Linked DNA regions of Homo sapiens: region 2 is linked to region 1. Evidence: fine-mapped expression QTL. A gene starts in region 1. The other region holds a variant in brackets. All regions are shown on one strand. Distances are between the middles of the regions.

What was found.
Region 2: its variant is fine-mapped to the expression of SLC10A7 in blood mononuclear cells (TOPMed, PIP 0.98). The same link has a PIP of 0.9 or more in whole blood.

What each region holds. Positions count from the first base shown.
Region 1 is chr4:146,519,188-146,524,520 of GRCh38, forward strand. It overlaps SLC10A7 (solute carrier family 10 member 7), which reads right to left and starts at 2,753. Exons shown (of 12, transcript NM_001029998.6): 1 at 2,431-2,753. The coding sequence starts at 2,530. RefSeq lists enhancers at 1,881-2,110, 2,551-2,620, 2,841-2,920, 2,931-3,350, 3,521-3,600.
Region 2 is chr4:146,253,827-146,259,212 of GRCh38, forward strand. It overlaps SLC10A7 (solute carrier family 10 member 7), which reads right to left. Exons shown (of 12, transcript NM_001029998.6): 11 at 4,866-5,011; 12 at 155-2,694. The coding sequence ends at 2,665. Among named protein-coding and RNA genes, the nearest start is that of REELD1, 42 kb to the left of the region's middle. The variant G/A (reference allele first, on the strand shown) is at 2,363.

The sequences.
Region 1 (5,333 bases):
ATAATATACATAATATCTCAAGGCCCCTCTGAGAGAGAATATATATTATATATAATAATATATTTTATATAATATATAACATATTATATACAATATATAACATAATATATAATATGATAATATATAATACATTATTTAACATAATATATAATATTATCTATATATAGAGAGAGATGACCTACTATGTCTTAGGCATTTGTAGTACAACAATGAATAAAAGAAACAAAGATTTCCTCAAATGCTGTAATAAATTATTTAATATGCCTGGCATTTACACAAATCATTTTGCTGAGATCTAAGAAAAGGGAAAGAAAGGGAGAAGGCAAGTGCAAAAGGCATTGCATTTGGGGGCAGTGAAGGCTGCTCAAAAACTTTTATAAGAGGTACATTATCTTTATATTTGTTAGTGAATCTGTCTCAGCAGCTCACACAGGTAATATTTCTTCAGCAGCTAAGCAAGGTGATTCAGGAGCAGATTTTAAAGTCAAGGAATCTGGCTTGCTTGGGAAGTAGAAGTTTCCCAGGAATTTTAAATACCCTGGTCTCCAATAGTTCCTCTTCCCTAAGCTAGCTACCTTAACCTAGAGAGAGTCACCTGGTATCTTCAACTGTAAAAGAAGCATGTTGGCTTAAAACACTTTAAATATTCCCCTCCCCCTCTTAACATTCTATTATAATTAAACAAAGGAATGAATTATCCTACATTAAAGACAGAAGGACTAGTGGAAATGGGAAATGGCATTTCTATGATACAATAATGTACCAAAATATTAATAAGCAGAGTCTATGGAACACATAAGTTTGCAGAATCTATCTCATACATGCCACTGCAGAAAAGCCCCACGGAAATGATTCAGCATTCAACACCTTTCTTCCCACAGAATATTTAGGAATGCAAGGTAAAAGATATTTTGCCAAACTTAGCCCCTGCAGATTTAAAGTTAAAGATCATACATCCTCTGTAATTTCATCTCAAAACTGAGCAAATAAGAGATCTAACACGAGAAGCGATAGCTAGTGAAGTGTGCATTGCAGATCATGCAAAGGTACTCTAAGTCTTACTATTCATTTAGCTCCGGGGATAGGGGGTCTTCATTTGACAGACCTGATCTTCACAAGAGTTTCCCAAAAGTTCACAGAGCAGCAGTGTTAAAGAAGAAACTATTACCATCAATCAGAGGGAGAAACCACCAGGAATAACTGCTTTATTCTCACAGTTACATATTCTACACATTTTGTTCTAAGTTGAATACAGAAGAACAAAATTTTAAAACAAACAATCCTTCATCTCCACAATTTTGGTTTAAATAATTCCTTTTAAAATGTTCCCGGAAGCTACTTCTAAACAGAGTAATGGGGTGGAGGTTAAGGGGAGAAGGGACCACTGCTGTTCTCCTAAGAGATCATTTCATTCACTTCCATCATGTTTTAACAAAAAGATAAAAATAACTTCAAATATCCTCCTGAGCGCTTCCTACTATGAAATATTGTGCCTGTTCACCTCTATCCTTATTTGCTCCGGTTGCATGAGTTAGGTATTAAACCTGTCAATAAGCTTGGAAACTGACAAACAAGGTCAAAAAGACAAGCGAATTGAATAAATTCAATTAATGTTTATGAAAAGTAGTACAAGATTGTCTAAAGGTGTTGGGGGGGGCATAAAAAACTAATATTTCTAATGTTCCCACCAGTGCCCATCATCTCCTGTACAAAGCTCCCACTATTCAGAGATCTAAGTATGCTTTCAGTCCATCCACATTTCCTTGCCAAAACACACACTACACTACACTACACATAGTCTAACAGTCTGTATCTGTTAGACTGCTAGTATAGCAACTGAATCCCGGCAGCACACGGAAGTATGCTGTAATGAAGTGTCCTGTAATCAAAGAGTGCAACGTGTCAGTCGGCTTGGGAGTTTCTGGAGCACCAGCAACTACAGCAAATCATCACTCTCCAACATGTGGGCCATAAAATCTGAGTTGGGGGCGGAGGTGTCCCTTTTCTTGTTTTTCCTCCACTTTTTTTTTTAATGTGGGGGCGGGGAGGACTCGAAAGTAGACTCGATAATGAGGTCCACTCCAAGATAGATACGGAACTCTTAGCAACCTAGATTCCCTTGGGATAGGATGCTACTTTGAAGGCAAGAGGAGTAAGTTTCATTCTCTGTAACCTCACTTCTTGACACTCAGGATAGTCATTGTTTGTCTACGGAAAAGGCTACCTGCCCTCAAATTCCTTTGCCTCGTTCCTAATTACAAGTTCCCTCTGGGGTTGGTAAATTAGAAAATCAGCAAAAGGGCCAAAGGCTGGTCAGTGCCCCCTGAAATTGGCAAGCGCTTGCAATGAGGGTTGCCCCACCTTTCCAAGACTCACAAATTAGTTCTGAAGTGGGAGCCGCGGTGGAGCCGGCAGAGGTGCAGCACTTACCCCCATTCACCCCTATGGACGGCTCCAGTTTAGCTCCAGCGATCGCCAGCACTATTCCGACCATGAACCAGTCTTTCCTCATTCTCTCCAGCAGCCTCATATTTGTTAGGGTGGGTGGGTTTTGTTTATTTGTTTGGCTTTTTTTCTTTTCAAGCTCCGATCACCTAATCCTTGGAGCGTCTCCACACTTTCCTTGGTCCCTCCAGACATGCAGCAGAGCAAGTCAAATTGCCGATTGTAAAGTAAAGACCTGGGGGTTGCTCCGGCGGCTTTGAGGAGGGTTGGGAGTAGTAGTAGCCAGTGACAGGAAAGTCTCACTGAGCGCCGCCATCACTACCACGCGCCTCAGAATACACGCGCACAAACGCCCCCAGCGCCTCTGGCCGCGGGCTCGCAGGTGCAGATGCTTTGAAATGAAGAACTCGGACCAGGCCGACAACGTGGGCGATCCGGCAAGGGAGGCTGGCCGCCGGATGGGGCTGACAAGCGCACCGCTGTCGAGACCTGCGGAACCTTCTGAATGACGAGGGGTCGGGGAGAGCGTCGTAAGGCGCCACAGCCAGCAAGCCTCACTGACTGTCCTTTTCTAACAAACCTTTAGGCACAGCCACCCACCCTTCTGGAGCATATCTCCATGGAGAGCCTCTCTTTTGCTGTGCCATGACTCCGCGGGCAGGGCTGACGTGTGCTTGGGGCAAGGGATTTCTCCGTTGAAGCTGCGGCAGCGGGGTGCAAGTTTGGAGACGCGCTTCTTCGGGACATTACGGCGCTTCCACGACGCTAGCGCTGACGTATGCGCGGGGGGGAGGGGAGGCCACTCTGGATCTCCGAGTTCCCAGCCTGAGCTGCCGGAGTTAGAGGTGTCCGCGCGGGAAAGTGGCTCGCTGGTGGGCGGGGAGCCTTATCTCTGGCGGTGGGTTGAAAATCCGGCGCCGGGCAGATGCCCACGTTCGCTGGACCCCTGCTTGCCGGCGTCCGCTACAACCCAAGGAAGGTGGGCCCGACCTCGCCAGGTCGCTCGCCTGCGGGTGGGCATTTGGTCCGGATCCCCTTCCCTCTGCGGCCCACACCTGTCTCCGGGACTGGGGAGGGCTGCAGGGATCGGGGCAGATCTGCCTTTGCGGGCCGAGAGTGACAGCTGAAGTCTCCCCACCAACTAAGCTACTCGCGGGCGGAGTGGGGTCTGCGCTGGCAAGCCCCTGGGCGCGCGGGTGCCCGCTCTGGCTCGCCCCCAGGGCTGACCTACCCAAGCCACAGGAAAACTCTGGGAAGAGGGTCGCGGATTCCAACGCGGAAGTGGTGGGGGATTGAGTCTGAGAGGTTGGGGAGTCCTACCTTCCATTGCCACGAGTGCTAGTTCTATCTGCCAGTTTCTTCCTTGAAATGTCTTGTGGCAACCAGTGACATTGATGGTTTCATGAATGGACTTCCTACCGGTAGACCCTGCAAGAGCATGAACTCCACTGTATCATTCATCCAAATGAAGAAAGAAAGAAAATAGTATGTGATATTTTGAAATAACCTGGCATCTGCCACTTAAATGGTTAAAAATAGAACTTAAGGTTTGGAAGAGATTGTTTCGTGATGACAGACTTTAATTCTGAATTTATTCAAAGCTGGAAAGACACTCGTCGTGTCATTTCCTCTATTTAATTTAGCTTTATCTTGATGGCAAGACTTCCAGAAACTAAGCCACTTTAAGAGTTGTGCTCCCAGTTGTAGGTTACACAGTACCAAGTGTCATCTAATTATACATCAGGCAACATGAAAAAAAATTAATTTCAAGATAAAAAGAACTTAACAGGGAGACATAGATGACATTAAGCAGTTTACTCTGAAAAGAGACAGGTACATGAAATATAAAATTTGATGTTAGTTGTCAGGCAGTCAGAAGATAAGTGAAGATAAATGAAAGATAGTTTACAACATAATTATTTTCTTATAGTAATTTCTTAGTAGGTTAAAGAGTCATACGTCTCAGTCATTGAAGGGATAGTTTTGTATTAAAACATCATTAAACATTAAGTTTACAGAAATTGAGCTGTTTTAACTGTACAGCTATTCACAAATTATTTACTAATACCTCTTTGATCTGTGTAGAGCAGAATCTAACTCAGAGATTTTTTTGTTCTGTTTTTAATGGTACTTAAAGGAAAAGAATATAATGTACCATGAATTATATTCTCTTAAGGCCTGTATTTGTTTGCTGTGGATGCTGAAACAAATACTCGAACTTGGATGCCTTCAAACAACAGAAATTTATTATCTCACAGTTCTGGAGGACAGAAGTCCAAAATCAAGATTTTGGCAGAGCCATACTCCCGCTGAAGGCTCTAGGGGAGAGTCCTTCCTTGCCTTTTCTAGTTTCTGGTGGTGCCTTCCTTGGCTTGTAGCTAGAGTGTTCCAATCTCTGCCACTGTTTTCACATCACATTCCCCTCTGTATTTCTTTCTAGTGGCCACATTATTCTAGTTTCTGCATCCATCTTCACGTTGCACCTCCTTTTCTGTGTATCTTTTATAAAGACACTTGTCATTGGATTTAGGGCCTACCCAGATAATCCAAAATGATCTCTCAAGAGCCTTAACTCAATCACAGTAGTCCCCCCTTATCCTGAAAGGATACATTCCAAGAACCTTAGGTAGATGCCTGAAACTGCTGGTTGTACTGAACCCTATCTATATATGCTATGGTATTTTTTCTTATACATACATTCCTATGATGATAATTTTTGGTTTATATTATTAGGCACAATAAGAGATGAACAATAATTAATACAGTCAGGCATTGCTTAACCACCGGGTTACATTCTGAGAAATGTATGGTTAGACGATTTCATCATTAGAGAAACATCATAGAGTGTACTTACACAAACCTAAATAATGTAGTGTACAACACACCTA
Region 2 (5,386 bases), 270 kb before region 1:
GTACCCATAGAAATACCCGGGAGACTATGAAGTTTACATCTATATAACGACAAATGACATAACGGTGCAGAAATGAATCAAGAGAAATCTAAAGACACTTAGAAGGCATCACAAGGCCATCTGAAATCAGGTTAAAAATAAGCCACAGTTTCTCTTGTGATTTCTGAAACATTCTTTGTTTAATCATATAATTATTTTCATCTTCCAGTCATCATAAATAATCCACTTTATGACTTAACCAATCCTTTTGAAAAAATTTGGTATTTAGCACAAACACTGAACATTAGCTAGAGGTGTGTTAATTTTTAACAGAATAGGGAAAAATTTTAAAAAACCCACAAAAATTTTAATACTAAGAAAAAACATGAAAATACCAACATTATTACCCATTAAAAAATCTAATTTTGTAACAACCATTAAAAAAAATCCAGGTGGAAAAATGAGTAAACATAAATATAATCTAATGTATTTCTTTCATAAATACATTTAGACAAAACAAATGCATAAAACAGATAGCTTTACAGTGTATAAACATAACAAAATATTTTAAGCTCTGAATAATTAAATCCCAATAAGCATGAATTAAAAATAAATTTTGATTTTATTTTTTGTTCTTTATGAAAAAATATGCCAAGGAATTTGTGTAAAAAAAAGAAATAGGCATAAACATATCACTAACGCCACCAAAGTTCACTATGTAAAGATTATTTGAAAACAAAGCACATTTTTAAAGCAAACGATAAAATGTTATCATAGCATTTTCAGTTGAATTTTATCCCATGATCACACCTACTATAGGTGTTAGACAATAGAGGTAGATAAGTTGGGGGCGGGGATCAGTATTTTAATGTTAGGGAGAAAGATTTTTATGATAGGGCAGATAGATGACAGACAGACAGACACTTCCATTTACTCCAAAATTCAAAGAAACTTGTAGGAACAAAACCTAAGAGCCTTCCTGTGCTCCATAGGTAAGCACAATTACCTAAGCAAAATTACTGTAGTTTTAGACACAAGTAAAATTCTTTATAACAGTGTGTACTACAGCCTGGTTAGCATAGATTTTTGCAGGATCTGGCATTAGCCTTAAAATTCACACTGAGAATAACTCTTATGAAATTTATTCAATGACATTGACAAAAGATGAGACCTGGTAGTAACAATAATATAAATTTACACAGTAGATAAACTTGGTGAGTTTCTAAGGAATGATTTTTTGTTGTGGGCATAATAACGAAACAACAAAAACAGCTGCTGAGGACATAGCACGGCCTCAGTGAGACCCAGGATGCCAATATTGTCTATCAAATCAAGAGAGGACGTGTAAGAGGATGTGACAGGACGGCATGGGGGAAACACAGAAAAGTGTTCTCGTAGTTCTATACGTGGCTTCATTCTCTACTTGGGTCCAGTTACAGTTCTTGCAGCTATAGCAGAAGCAAATATTGGACACTCATTTGAAAGCTGCTGCCCCGTTGGGAACTAATTTTACTTGATATTTTGGTTATTAAATGGTTTTGCATGTTCTTTTCATCTGGAGAGACAGAATGTGTATATGTAACATTTGTTTGCATCCATGACCTTTATATTTTCATTTATTCATGAAAGCAATATGATTTAACTTCTAAAAAAATATTGCCAACATTTGTCAAATCTGCCAAGGAAATTTTCATTAATAAATTGTCTCAAATACCTTAAGTGTGCTTAATTCCAGGATGTAACAGGCTGCTTTTGGCCAACAGGGGCAATCTGGAAAGTGCTCAGCACATCTGCGTAATAGGAAAAAAATTTGGTCTGGGTTGTGGAATGTGAATAGAATCTACCATTAATTGATGCTGCTTTCAAACTGATTGTAACATTTTTGTGCCTCATATTTGGCTGTTATGAGTGTGTAAGTGCAAGACAGAAATTATTGAATAAAGAGGAAGAAGATATTAAGATATATTTTAAAGACCCTGAAAATCAAATCACAGAGTTTAACTCAAAATTTCACATGATTTCACTCATAATTCAAACATTCAGACCCTTTCTTTGAAGCAGCTTATAATAAATTTAAGACATATAACCACAATCTCTCATAATGGGAGTGAGGAATTTCTGTGTGGAAACTATTTGAAGGAATGTCTTTAAAAATGATGTCAAGGAATGCATATATCTTACGCTTTTCAGCATCTATTCGATCTATGACCCCTGCTGAGTTGATAAGGAAGAGGCATGTCACAGTCGTAGAAAAAAAGAATCACACAGTAAATCAAAGTATGCATGAATAAGACTTTGGAAATTTTCACTGTCATCAGAAGGGCATTTTCCTGATGGTGTGACCTCATTTCAAACATTACAGTAACTACTATAGGGTTGTATT[G/A]CACAAAGGTGCTGCAGGGAAAGCATGTTTGCTTTTTGTCACTTACCATGACTGATTCCTGCATTAGGAAAGCAAAATTAACCCCCAAATATTGTACCACCCCTGGCAGTAATCAACAAAGCATATTTTGGAAATAACGCTCTTGTCAAATACATTTTAAGGCACTTAAACAGGATCTCATATTTTTGTGTAAAAAAATAAAATATGCATTGAGGCAACATTCACAAGTACAAGTCTTCAGAATTGCTAGTATGTACAATCCTGTACATATATACATTGCTACAGAAAGTCCACCTCCTTTGTTATACTGTCGGCCTTGTCAGCTTCACTCCCTACAAGGAAGGAAAACATGTTCAGAGTTGGACAGTATCCATGAGGAAAGTGAAAGCATCAATTAACACCAGATAATTTATGCTATTAGAAGGAAGAAGAGGCCCACCCAGATGGCATCATATAACCAATAATCCAAACCTCTGGATACAAACAGATTTCCCTGCCCACCTCTCTGGCCAGCAGACTTTGTCATTTCCCCTCCCACACCTGGCCTGGCTACTCGTATGGTTCCCCTGTGCACTAGATGGTAGCCTTGGGTCTCAATCAGTACTGTGTGCAAAGCAGAGGAGGCACTCATGGATACCTGGAGGATGGACTCTTGGTATTTATTTTAATGCCCAAATTTGATGGATAGATATTCCAAGCCTTCTGGATTATTCAAGTTAGCCAGTGGCCCCCTGGTTTGGAGTAGTTTCTACACAAAGGAAAAATGAACAACAGTGTACAATTTAGTCTCCCTTTTGGAAATGCTTCTGTTATTCTACAGAACAAATTCTAGAGCTTTTAAATGTTTGGAAGAAAAATTCACTCTGATTAATTTGCTGTTCACTATGGCTGTATAATATTGATGAGTATTAGGATTTTCAAATAATTTTCTTCATTCTTTGTCAAAATTTACATGTACAAATTCTGACTGACAATTGCACACATATTGATAAACATAAGCATAAATAGAAATAGAAAATTTCAAAGGGGATAAACAGTAAAAGAAAGAAAAAGTTACTGAACTGTTCCACAACCAACTCCGAGTAGGAGGCTCAGAGCCTGGAGTGGTACCCAGCATAGAAGAGGAATCTTTTTTATGTTAACATTTTGTTAAATAACTGAATTAGTGAACATGTTGGATGGGCTGAACTTCTCAGGTAGGATCCTGGGTGCCTAGGGCAAACCTTCTAAAAGTGATGTTACATTTCTATCTGGAGTGTCATCACCGTGTTGGGTAAAGATTTTGGGGGTCAAATAGCCCAGTGTTCAGGTCCTAACTCCAGCACTGGCTGAACTACCCTATGGTCTCAGGCCAGCTGCTCAACTCCCTGAGCCCATTTCCTAACCCATAAAATGGAGAGAGCAAAGCCTGCAGTGAACATCATTGTAGATAATGATGAACAATGATGATAATAATTATGGCAGCTAGCATTATCAAACACTCATCACGTAATCCTCTACAACCCTAGGGTGTAGATATTATCATTAGTCAGCAGAAACTGAGCTACAGAGAAGTAAAGTATGCCCCAGGTTACAGGATGAGAAGGCCAGCAGCCTGAGCTCTGAGCCCAGGCAGGCTGGCCCAAGATCCATCCTTTGAACCAGGTAGAGGATAGGATGTGCTTAGCACACACAGTGCTCAATAGGTGGTACTGTGGCCATCCTATTTTCAGGATATTAAGAACATGACACAGGGCACTTGTCATTGGATACCTCTTCTTCCCACACATCTCCTGATAACAGTCACTACTTTGTGAATAGACAAAAATAAGTCCTGGTATGTCCAAATCACTGGGAAGGAGTCAGTTCTATCAATGCTACCACGTGATATGCACCATCTAAACTTCTTGTGAATCACCTGGTTTACTTATTTTGTTGATAATTTAGGAAATGAAATCCACAAATATCTAATGTGTACAAGATTCTAAGTGTGGTGAAATTAACATTGCATGGACTTCTTAGCTACTTAAAGTTTATTTTTTAATGCCCAAATGCAGTTTTGCTGTACAAATAGGTTATTATATATCTGGAAAATTAAAAATAAAGTAGGCAACCTGGATAATGCCAGGTTCTATCTTATTTGGAAAGGCATGTGAAGTAAGACATAGATGAAAGACTGAGGCAAAGATGGTATGCACCAGAGTGGAGCAGGTATCTATTTGGAGTATATTTACTGAACCTTTACCCCATATAATATGCCCTTCAATATGAATGAATTCAAAAGAGCTTGTAAAAACTGCATGTTAAGTATAATTGTCTTTTATAACAATTTAAAATCTTTAACCTCAACCCTCCTGTTCAAATTGGAATGGATCAGTGCACCATTATTATTGTATTTAAGTAAGAAAATATGTACTTGAAAACAAAGATATGCAAGCAAAATCGAAAGTGTATGAACAGTTCAGATTCAGGAACAGCATTTTAATCTAACTTGGATCCAAATAAGATCTTTCTGGGGACTCACCTTCTGCCTTGATACCATCCAAGACTTGATTGTTGGCACCAACACACTTCCCAGAAGGATCTGAGCTGGGTGGTAGATGAGCAAGGGTACAGATATTAAAGAGAGATGCTCATGGCCTGCAAACACGATCTTCAGCATCGGAATTCCTGTTGAACAAAGAAGACAGAAAACCTAAACCAAATTCAGTCTGTCATCAAATTAAATGCATACTCCATCAAAATCAGAACTTTGGAATAGGTTATTACCATATTTTCTCATGTTTATTCACAGAACTGAAATGGGAAAGTCTGAAATGGGTCACCAAAACTTTCCATCTTTCTTTCATGACATAAAGTTCTAACTAGGATAAGGTGGAAAGATGGTCAGTATTCGAGGGTACCAATAATTCTCACGGCAAATTAGAAGCTTATCTAACAAGGAGAGGAGAGAAGATTGCGTGTGATGGAGTTGCTTTAAGAAGGCTGAAAAATATTGGTGAGGGAGATGCTAAAAATGGATCTCTTCTTGCTTAGTAGTGAGAT